Linked DNA regions of Homo sapiens: region 1 is linked to region 2. Evidence: fine-mapped expression QTL. A gene starts in region 2. The other region holds a variant in brackets. All regions are shown on one strand. Distances are between the middles of the regions.

The links. PIP is the estimated chance that this variant, and not a neighbour inherited with it, causes the effect.
Region 1: its variant is the best candidate, but not a certain one, in a credible set for the expression of BLMH in Th17 cells (Schmiedel 2018, PIP 0.58).

Annotation. Positions count from the first base shown.
Region 1 is chr17:30,324,645-30,330,026 of GRCh38, forward strand. It overlaps TMIGD1 (transmembrane and immunoglobulin domain containing 1), which reads right to left. Exons shown (of 7, transcript NM_206832.3): 3 at 4,607-4,885; 4 at 172-450. Among named protein-coding and RNA genes, the nearest start is that of TMIGD1, 6.7 kb to the right of the region's middle. The variant A/G (reference allele first, on the strand shown) is at 2,072.
Region 2 is chr17:30,288,694-30,294,075 of GRCh38, forward strand. It overlaps BLMH (bleomycin hydrolase), which reads right to left and starts at 3,251. Exons shown (of 12, transcript NM_000386.4): 1 at 3,114-3,251; 2 at 2,618-2,815; 3 at 680-789. The coding sequence starts at 3,126. RefSeq lists an enhancer at 2,472-2,531 and silencers at 2,982-3,051, 3,252-3,661.

The sequences.
Region 1 (5,382 bases), 36 kb after region 2:
AAGGATGGACTAGGATTCTTAGTGGAAAAATCCTTGGATGGGGATGATTCTCCAAAGAAAATCCTGGCCCTAATCATAACCGTTATTATCATTTATTGTCACCAGAAATATTCACTGAGCATCTGGTGTGAGTTTTGCACTGTGCTGGGTATTACTTAAAAAGAGCATTACCTTTAACAATCAGGTGAAAGTCCAAGCTCTCCGTTTTCAGAGATGACTTTGCAATACAACTGTAGGTTCCGTTGTCAGGCTTCTCGACTTTGGTGATTGACAGCTGAAAAGACTCACTTGTCTGTTGGATTTGGTGACGGCTTTTCTCTAAATCGAGGAGACTACTGTTTTTGTACCACATCATTTGAGCCTGGGGGTTGGCTTTCACATTGCAAACCAACTTCACATTACTGCCTTCCTCAACTGTTTGGAAGTCGTTTCCACTTAGGAGAGGAGGAACTGCAAGACTCAAGCATTTAGATTTAATTAGCAGATAAGCAATAGTTCACTGTCAGAGTTCAAAGTCTTCCTTCAATCTATCTCATGTGGTCATTTATTCATTTGACAAAAATTTATTAAATACGTACGGTGTGACAAGCACTGGGGTAACAAGGGCAAATAACACTTCCAGTTCCAAATCTCATAGAACTTTTAATGTGATGAAGAAGACAAACCATGAAACAATATATGATTATGAGCATGATATATATAGTAATGATCTATGACAAGCAGACAATTTGTAACACTACCCAAGAGTATAAGCCTTGAGTCTTTCTTCTCTGAGAATTAATAAACCAACCTGTGCTAGTGTTGCACAAAACAGTACAAAATTAAGAAGACATACATTGCAATTAGATCTAATTCCATCTACACCGTTTACTGTGACTTTGAGACAGTTAACTAACTGCTAAGGCCTCTGTTTCTCATGTAAAAAAAAAATGGGATAATCATACATCTCCTGAGATGCTGTAAAGATTAAATAAAATAATCCCTGTAAAGAATTTGCCACAGTGCTAGCCGCTATTATTATTACGGTGGTGGTGGTTTTGAGGGTTACTCTCACCGTCTGTTTTTGCATTTTATCGAACCATTGCCTTGGTAACATATTCACCAATGCATCTTTGCGTTTTCTCAGTGGTGCTCTAGAAATAATGTCCTCCTCCCAGAAGGTGTTCTAAGCATGAGAACTCTGGCATCTGTGGAAGGCAAGTGAGTCCCTCTCATCCCTGTGTGTGAGCAACTCCTTTTTTCCTCTACAATAAGGGCAGTTGTAGACCCATAGACAGTCAACACATCTATCACTGTGCATATTCTGGCAGAAGTGCAGAATAGTAATGAAATGGTTGGAGAGTGGGAACTAGGAAAAAGATAGAGACGGAGAAGGAGGAAAAAGGAGCTTGTATAATCTGCACACTGAATAATTAGACCCTGAGTAGGCTGTGTTATTAATAACTCTCTCAGAAGAATGACATTTTGTTGCTCTTTGGAATGAGCTCGAATTCTGTATCATATCCAACAAGGATGTTATATGGTATTCAGATAGGAAGGAAGCTGCTGGAATAGAGAACATAATTGCCAAATGGAACAATTCCATTTGTGGACAGATTCTGTTAGTGATTTCTTTCTATTTAACTATTTGAAATTAATTTAAGCATATCAGTATATGTGAATATCCCCTCTGTAAAAATTAGTACATTTTAGATAAAGCTAAGATCCAAGCTGGTCACTTCCTGATCCCCAGAGATACCCACTGTTATGAGTTTGGTGTAAATCCTTCCCTATCTTTCTTTTTTCTTAAATAGTTTTCTATACATATAGTGTACCCATAGGAAATATATCATATTATTTTAGGGACATGGGAAGGTTTTACATAAAATACTTCCTTTCTCTCAGTAACTTGCATGTTTTTGAGATATGTTTATATTGAACCACAGAGATCTAGCTTATTGCTTTTAGAATGCTATAGTATAATGTATGCCTTTAATCATTTGTGTTTTGATGGGCTTTAGGTTGTTTTCATTTTAAAATGTTAAACAATGCTACAATAAACATCCTTGTACATATCTCTTTATGATCCTGT[A/G]CATGTATTTCTCCAACGTTAACATCTAGAAGGAGAAATGGTGTGTCGTAAGATATGCACACTTTAAATTTTGATAAGTATTTTGAAAGAGGTGTTCTCAATTTAAACTTTCAGCAACGAGGTATGAGAGGACCTGTTTCTCCACATTCTCCCCCAAACAGTGTATTATCAAGCTTCCATTTAGTTCTTGATTCTGCTATTTATAACAATAATGGTCCTGCCTTTGAAGGGTACATAATATCCTTGTCACATTTTATGAGCTCATTTTGATTTATTGGTTGATGACTTTGTGTCAGTACTGTCATTATGGATTACTGAGCAATTAACTATACACACACACACACACACACACACACACACACACTTAGCAACAATGATATTTAGGAGATTGTTATAAACAGAATTTAAACAGTGGATTGAGGCTAGAAAACTGAAAACAATTTCTTTAAGTCATCAAATCACATTGTTGGCATTTCTGCCATGTCTCCCTTAAGAGGGTTCCATCAGCCTGGGCAACATAGCAAAACCCCGTCTCTACAAAAAATACAAAAATCAGCTCGGCCTGGTGGTGCACGCCTGTAGTCCCAGCTACTTGGAAGGCTGAGGCAGGCAGATCACTTGAGCCTGGGAGGCAGAGGTTATAGTGAGCTGAGATTGTGCCACTGCACTCCAGTGTAGGTGACAGAGTGAGACCCTGTCTCAAAAAAAAAAAAAGTTTCGTGGAATAAGCACTTAAGCACTAGGTTAGAAGCTTGGGAATTAGTGTTTTATTCTCAGCTGCACCTATGATTTGAGCCCCTAGTCCGGGCCTTAGTTTCCTTAGCTGGCTTTTTATTTTATTTTATTTTATTTTATTTTTTTTGAGACAGGGTCTCACTCTGTTGCCCAGGTTGAAATGCAGTGGCGCAATCACAGCTCGCTGAAGCCTCAAACTTCTGGGCTCAGAAGATCCTGTAGCCTCAGCCTCCCGAGCAGCTGGGGCTACAGATGTGTGCCACCATGCCCAGCTAATTAAAAACACACCTTATTTTTTTTTTTGGTAGAAATAGGGTCTCACTATGTTATGTTTGTAGAGATAGGGTCTTTCTACCAAATCATACTGCATCATTATACCTCACCCATTGCCATACCATCCACACCATTCTCATGCAGAACCAGCTTTTCACCCAACAACCCATGTGATCATCTACATTGTATCACTTGACAGTCCCCTAAGCCTATACAGTTCTACCAATGGGTTACCAATACCTGGAACCCAATCATTGAAAAGCTTCACCTTTTTTGATTTTAAGGTGATGTTTAAAGATTCCCTAATGAAAATCTTTTTTTTTTTTTTTTGAGATGGGTCTCACACTGTTGCCCAGGCTGGAGTGCAGTGGTGGCATCTCAGCTCATTGCAACCTCTGCTTCTTGAGTTCAAGCAATTCTCCTGCCTCAGCCTCCTGAGTAGCTGAGATTACAGGTGCCTACCACCGCACCTGGCCAATTTTTGTATTTTTAGTAGAGGCCAGGTTTCACCATTGTTGGTCAGGCTGGTCTCGAACTCCTGATCTTAAGTGATCCATTTGCCTCTGCCTCCCAAAGTGTTGGGATTACACACATGAGCCACTGTGCCAGGCCATGAAAATCTGTCTAAGCAGAACACAAAAGCTAGGAACTACAAAGGAAAAGACTTGAAGCTTTAAATATATAAACATTTAAAATTTCAATATGGCAAAAAAGAACAATAAAAATTTTCAAAAACAAATAGGAGAAATACTTACAATTCAAAATGACAAAGGACTAATTTCCTTAATCTACAAAGCCCTTGTACAGATTAATGAGAAAAAAGCATAAAACCCAACGGAAAAAAATGAGTTAAGGATACAAGCAGGCATTTCATGGAAACAAACAAAAAAAAGACCATTATGTTTACACAAAGGTGAACACCCTCATTCTTAATTTAAAAAATGAAAACAGGCTGGGTGCAGTGGCTCACACCTGTAATCCCAGCAGTTTGAGAGGCTGAGGTAGGCGGTTCACTCGAGGTTAGGAGCTTGAGACCAGCCTGGCCAACATGGTGAACCCCCCGTCTCTACTAAAAATACAAAAATTAAAAATTAGCTGGGCATGGTAGTGGGCACCTGCAGTCCCAGCTACCCAGGAGGCTGAGGCAGGAGAATCGCTTGAACCCGGGAGGTGGAGGTTGCAGTGAGCCGAGATTGCGCCACTGAACTGCACTCCAGCCTGGGCAACAGAGCGAGACTCTGTCTCAAAAAAAAAAAAAAGAAAGAAAGAAAAAAGAAAAAGAAAAAAGAAAAGAAAAGAGAAAAGAAAAAAAAGAAAAGGAAAAGAAAATTTCAAAGGAGGCTGGCAAATTCTCAGAGTTTGGCGATACTCAGTGCTCATGAGGGTGAGGGGAAATAGGTACTCTCATACTTTGTGGTAGGAGCATAAATTGGGCAATTTGGCAATACCAAGACCTAGATTTCAACTACCACTTCATGTGTTACAGACATTACAGACCCACTAGCTGTTTCTTTTCCCCTCACTCACAAGTAACATTCAGCACCACCGAAACGGACACGGACTGATCCCTCCCCAGCCTGCAGGTAAAGCTGATTCCGTTGTCATTTTCACTGATGGAAGAGACACAGACAGAGCTGGAATTGATTTTGTTTCCAGATTTCAAATCCACTCTCCCCTCCTCTCGGTACCAGAGCAGTTCTTCCTCTCTGGTGTGGTTTTGAACAGCACATATCAGAGATGCTTGGGAGCCAGGTGTAGTATCCAGGATATAGTTCTCAGTTTTACCATTCACAGTTAAAACAGAACCTGGGAGTATAGGGAGAAACTATTTAGATATACAGAGTAAACAACCTTAATGCTCATGAACAGGGGATTGGTTAAATAAGTTATGTTACATCAGTAGAACAAAATAAACTCTCAACGATTAAAAATAGTCATATTGATCTATATGATTTTATAATGAAAAATATTCATAATGTATTGTTAACTGAAAAAGAAAAAGATTAAAATGTGGTCATCAAATTTTTGTGCACATTGGAATCACCAGGGGATCTTTTAAAAAGTACTGATGTAGCTGGGTGCTGTGCCTATAATCCCAGGGCTTTGGGAGGTAGAGGCGGGAGGATCGCTTGAGCTCAGGAGTTCAAGATCAGCCTGGGTAACATAGTGAGACTCCGTCTCTACAAAAAATAAAAAAATAAAAAAAAAAACATTAGCCAGGCATGGTGGTGTGCACCCATACTTTTAGCTACTTGGGAGGATAAGGTGGGAGACTCGCTTGAGCCCAGGAGGTGGAGGTTGCA
Region 2 (5,382 bases):
GTGGCTCACACCTGTGATCCCAGCACTTTGGGAGGCCAAGGCAGGCAGATCACTTGAGGTCAGGAGTTCGAGACCAGTCTGACCAACACGGTGAAATGCCCTGTCTCTACTAAAAATACAAAAATTAGCTGGGCATGGTGGCATGTGCCTGTGATTCCAGCTACTTGGGAGGCTGAGTTGAGAGGATGGCTTGAACCCAGGAGGCAGAGGTTACAGTGAGCCGAGACTGTGCCACAGCCCTCTAGCCCGGGTGGCAGGGTGAGACTGTCTCAAAAAAATAAATAAACAAATAAACAATCAAATAAAATTATTTACTGTTTTTCAGACAAGTTCTTGAGAGGGAAATTAGGTCCTAGAAAAGAACAAATAACCTAAAAAGATGTTAAAAAGGGAGATATATTGAATTGAATATTGAATATAAAATTTAAAATTTTAAATAGACAAGCAAGCAGTAAGATGAGTCAGTAAACTTATTTCATTGCAAAAAAATGGCCACCTACCAACCAAAAACAGTTCTGCCTTTGAAAGAGTCAACTTTTGATACTCTGGAAGTCAGAATAAAAGGTGTCTCACCTATTATGAAAGGGCAGGCTATAACTGGAAAAGCTACAAAAGAAGAGGCAGTCCCTACCAAGGCTGATATCAATACAAAAAGAATCTTGCCAGATCTGTCCCATACCTTGTCCCAAAAAAACAGGTAAGATTGGCTAAACTCAAATTCTTCAATATTTAACTTTTTCATGAATGGAAGCCTCATAACATTCAGACAAGAAAAGATCCAGCATCGCCCTGAAACAAGAAAGCACATCAAGAAATTATGAGGGTTCACATAGACTGCACTGCTCCAACTGTATTTCCCACCAATGAACTCATGACACGATCTGGACAATTCAGAAAGAGTAAATCAGAAAGAGCAGAAAGATTAAAAACAAAACAAGAAAGGTGGTAATTATTATTAGCAATATATATGCAAAGGTTTAATATCTTTAACACAAAAACACTCTTTACGTATCAAATAAAGAATCCATTTTTCAGAGTAATGCCTTCTCCAAATTGTACTCTACTTCAAAATAAATTAACTGAGAGCGCCATTAGAAAAGTCTTTTAAGGTCTTAAATACAGGGAAATTATCTCTTTTCTGAGGGAAAATTCTGAGGGAAAAACTTTGACTTGTATTGGGTATAACCTTTTTACTAATATGAAAATATGTTTATAATATATTGGTAAGTGAAAAAGATAGGTAGCTTACATAACAATGTATAAGGTATCAATGCATATTAAACACTATTAAACACACACACACACACAAAACTTGACAAATATACAAGAAAAATATTTACTTGGTATTTACAAATATTCTACATTAAACAAAAATAATTTTGTAACAAGAAGAAAACTCTAGTTAACTATAGTGTTTTATGAAAGTCACTAGTGCCTATTAGTTCGTCTTTACCTTACATTTACCTGTATGTCACCTCTCTTCTATATGCTATATATTTCTAGTAGAGGGGATCTGGATGCACTGGTGATGTGAAAACTGCATGAAAATAAACTACACAACTCACATGCTATTTGGATCTTTTGTATGTAAAAGTGACACTGCAAAATGTGTAAGACCTGACCTGTTCCCTAACGGGTCACTGCAATCTAAACTATGTAGGACCACTGTGACATTACTAACTGGATCATCTGTAGCCTGAGAGCCCACACCACTCCAAGCACTTTCTTCTAAAGCAAAACATTAATTATTGTAAGGTCTTGACTTTTTCCTTAACATTTAAAAAATCAACTTTATTCAGGTATAATGTACATACAATAAAATGTACTCACGTTAAATGTGTGCTTTGTGAGTTCTAACCGACTCTAAACAAGCACTGATGTGCTTCCTGTCCGTATAGATAGACTGGGGGGTCGTTTTTAAGTATAGAAAGACTTTAAAAAATCCGTTTAGTACAATTTTGTTGTGAGAATGTGCTCCTTATTTAGATTGCTGGATATCCAATCTTTCACTATACCTGTTTTTTCTGAGAGTGGTGCTAGAAAGCAGATAGCAAAACGAGACTTCTTGACCAGCAAGGCATGAGAACAGAACTTTTTTCTGTATTACAAACTGATCTACTGGTGGGAACTGAGCCCATCAGCACATTAGCTTCAGTTGTAACCAAGAAGCATATTTAAAAGTAACATCTGATGACATTTTAATGTAATTACATTGTATCTTTTCTATTTCATAGTATAGGGCCTTCAGGGCATTTCTGGGGAGTCCTCCAAAGATATGAACATTTTCACATGTTCTGTTTTGTGACCAAGACCATACATCTCCAAGACACGGGCTACAAACCACACAGCATTGGAACATAATATAGTCAATTACACTCAAACGTATACTCATGGACATGTCACTTTTGTACTCTAACCGCATGTACTAACAAGCCACAGAACAGCAAAACAAACCACATGGGTAATGTTCTTAGACCTGCCTGTACCTGTGCCTCATTCTTTACGAATTTACGACCAGTTCTTTCAGTACGAATTTAAGACCACTCTTAAATAAGACACCAAAATGGGACGCTGTCAGGAAGGTCAAGGAACGTATGGGAGAAGTGGAAGCCCACACCTGAGCTCTTCTGGTTGGTGATTGGCTTGCCCTCCTGGGGCACGGCGTGCTGGAACACATGCTGCGCGCGCTGCACCGTGGCCCGCTTCAGACAGATGTCCAGCAGGTCGTGGGTGGTCCCGACATTCTGGGCAAGTACGAACTGGGGGTCGGAATTCAGTTTCTGTATCAGAGCAGCTACCTTCTCCGAATTCAGTCCTGTTGGGAGACCAAACAGGATTTTAACGCAAAAAGAGGGGGAAAGGGCTGATCTGGGGCTCCCGCGTCCCGAATCTAACTTCGTAAGCGCATCCTGGGGTGCCCGCTGCAGCGGGGAAACCCATAAGCGGCATCCTCCTCCAAGGAGCTGTCTCCCTCCAGGCCGATCCAGCCTGCCCCGAAAGCTCCCTCCCCGCCATCGCCAAGGGTCCCAGCCCCCGGCCTTCCCCGCCGCCGGGCCTCACGGGGACCGCGGAGCTCCTCCAGAGGACCGCGGCGGGGGACGGCGGCACCTCACCCGAGCTGCTCATGGCGCCCACGCTGCCCGGCGGGGTAACGGTAGCTTCCAGGGTCCTTGGGCGAGCGCCGGGATTGCGCTGCGGCTCGCTGCCTAGGGGGCCCGACCTGTCTCTCGCACCCGGAGCGCCGGAAAAAGGAAACCGGCTCGGCGGCGGCGGCGGCGGCGGCGGCGGGGAGGCTGAGGCTGGGAGAAACGGGGTCCGCGGAGGGACAAAACTCCCCCCTCGCGTTGCTGAGTCAGCGCCGTCGGGGCTGGCCCCGCCCGGGGGAGGGCCGACGGGGGCGGCCTAGCTGACGCGCTGGGTCCGCCAGCGCCCGGGGGCTGAGGCCGCGCCTGCCCCCGCGCAGGACCGCACAGATGGTCTGCGCGCCAGGGCGGCGCCGGCGCCTTCTCCCCCTAGGTTCCCGCCTCCGGGCCGCGCGGGCGCCCTCCCGGGATCAGGCCCGCTCCAAGGAGGGAGGCTGACGGGTTCCCTGTGGGCCCAGACCCCCAGTACTCTAGCATCGGGGAATCGTCCCCAGGAAGCCTTGTGAGAAGCCAAAAGGGAGCTCGAGGCGGGAGGGAGGAGCTGAGAGGTCCCATAATTAAGCGTCGGGCTTAGGACGGGTCGATATGTCACAAGGAATGCACCCGAAGGCTCTTCCTATAGGCTTCGTTTGCTGACCAATCACTGCATTCTCAATGGCAACTTGTTGCTTGGATTCTCATCAGAAGCAAATAATTGTCTTTGAGGGGGAATGGGAACCAAGCTCTTCCCCACCCACTCCAAAGCTACTACCAGAGTTCTACAAATAGACATCTGCTCATTTCAAGAACACTACCCATCTGGTCTTCACGGAGTCCACGAGTGGCTCCTGTATAGTCCAGCATGTCCCGTTGGGTTTAACTCAGGAGGATGACAGAGGCTAGCCGTATGCATCAATATTGTTTCGCCGAGTTCTCTACAAAACTAACTGATGCTCCCCCTCTAGGCTTTCAAGATAACTCAACAGTTTCCCAAAGTTTTGAGATTGTAAAAACCTTGTTTTTGTTGATTCCGTGTTTCATGCCCTGAAATCTCAGCCCTTAGTAAGATGCTGGGATAGAACCCACAGAGAGTAAAACAAAAACACTGAAACCCTGTATCTGCTATTCAAAACGATGAGGTTGAGTGTGTGTGTGTGTAACCTAGAATCTAGGTCTTCTTAGATTGAAAATCATCGCAGTTCTAAGGAACTCTGATATCTGGAAAAATCCATACTCAGGCACCAATCAGTCATTTGAGAAAGCACGGTTTCTATGTCCCTAGAGAGACTCGGCTAAAAATTGGGGCTATAACATAGCAACTATCTTAAGTGGGCCCATCAACCATCCTATTCTGAGGTTCTTTCAATATCTGAAAAAGAAGAGGCTGAAAATTATACAGAAAGAAATCACTGGTCCTTTCACAAAATGATGTTCAAGCATCCTGCCCAATTCAAGTCATAAATTTTTATTCAGTATCTAACATGTACTAGGCACTGGACAAACTGCTGATGACATAGAGACGAACAAAGCTTAATCTTGCCGTTAAGAAACTCAATGTAGTAGGAAAGAGATGCAAAACAACTTTTAGACTATCTGTAGTAGCATACCAATAGTGCTGTAGACTGTAGAAGCAATGAGGAGAGCACTGTCAATTAGGGCCAAAGGGTGCCTGAAAATAGAAGTGACAAGAGAGCATGATCTTGAAGAGTGGATGAGATTTTTACAAGTCAAAGAACAGGAGAAGGGCATTCAAGGCACCAGCGAAGGCGCAGTGAATAAAATCATGTTCAAGAAAGGGTGCATCATAATCGGATGTGGCTAAGAGCAAGGCATGTTTTGGGAGCAGAGGCAAGGTGTAGGACTGGAAAAGTTTTGTAGGTTTGGGCCAAGATATAAAGGGTTTTATGTTCAATGCCTGAGCATCTGGACTTTATCTTATGGTTAATTAGAAGACAAAATGGGTTTTGAAACAAAGGAAAAATATGCTCAAGTCTGTGTAAAAAAAGAAACCTGGTGGCAGTGGGGAGAGTAATTTGGAGGGGAGGGGCTCTGGAGATAGGGAAACTGGTTAGAAGGTTCTTCCAGTAGTGAACTTGGGAGAGGACAAAAGCCTTACATTGCGGAAAGGGAAGAGGCATTGATAATCTTGAAGTTTTCAGCGGAATAAGAAGATGGAAGGTGGTGTCATTAACCAAGAGAGGGCATACAGAAAAATAGGCATATTTGCATATTTGCAAGTGTGCAGATCTGAACTGAGTTT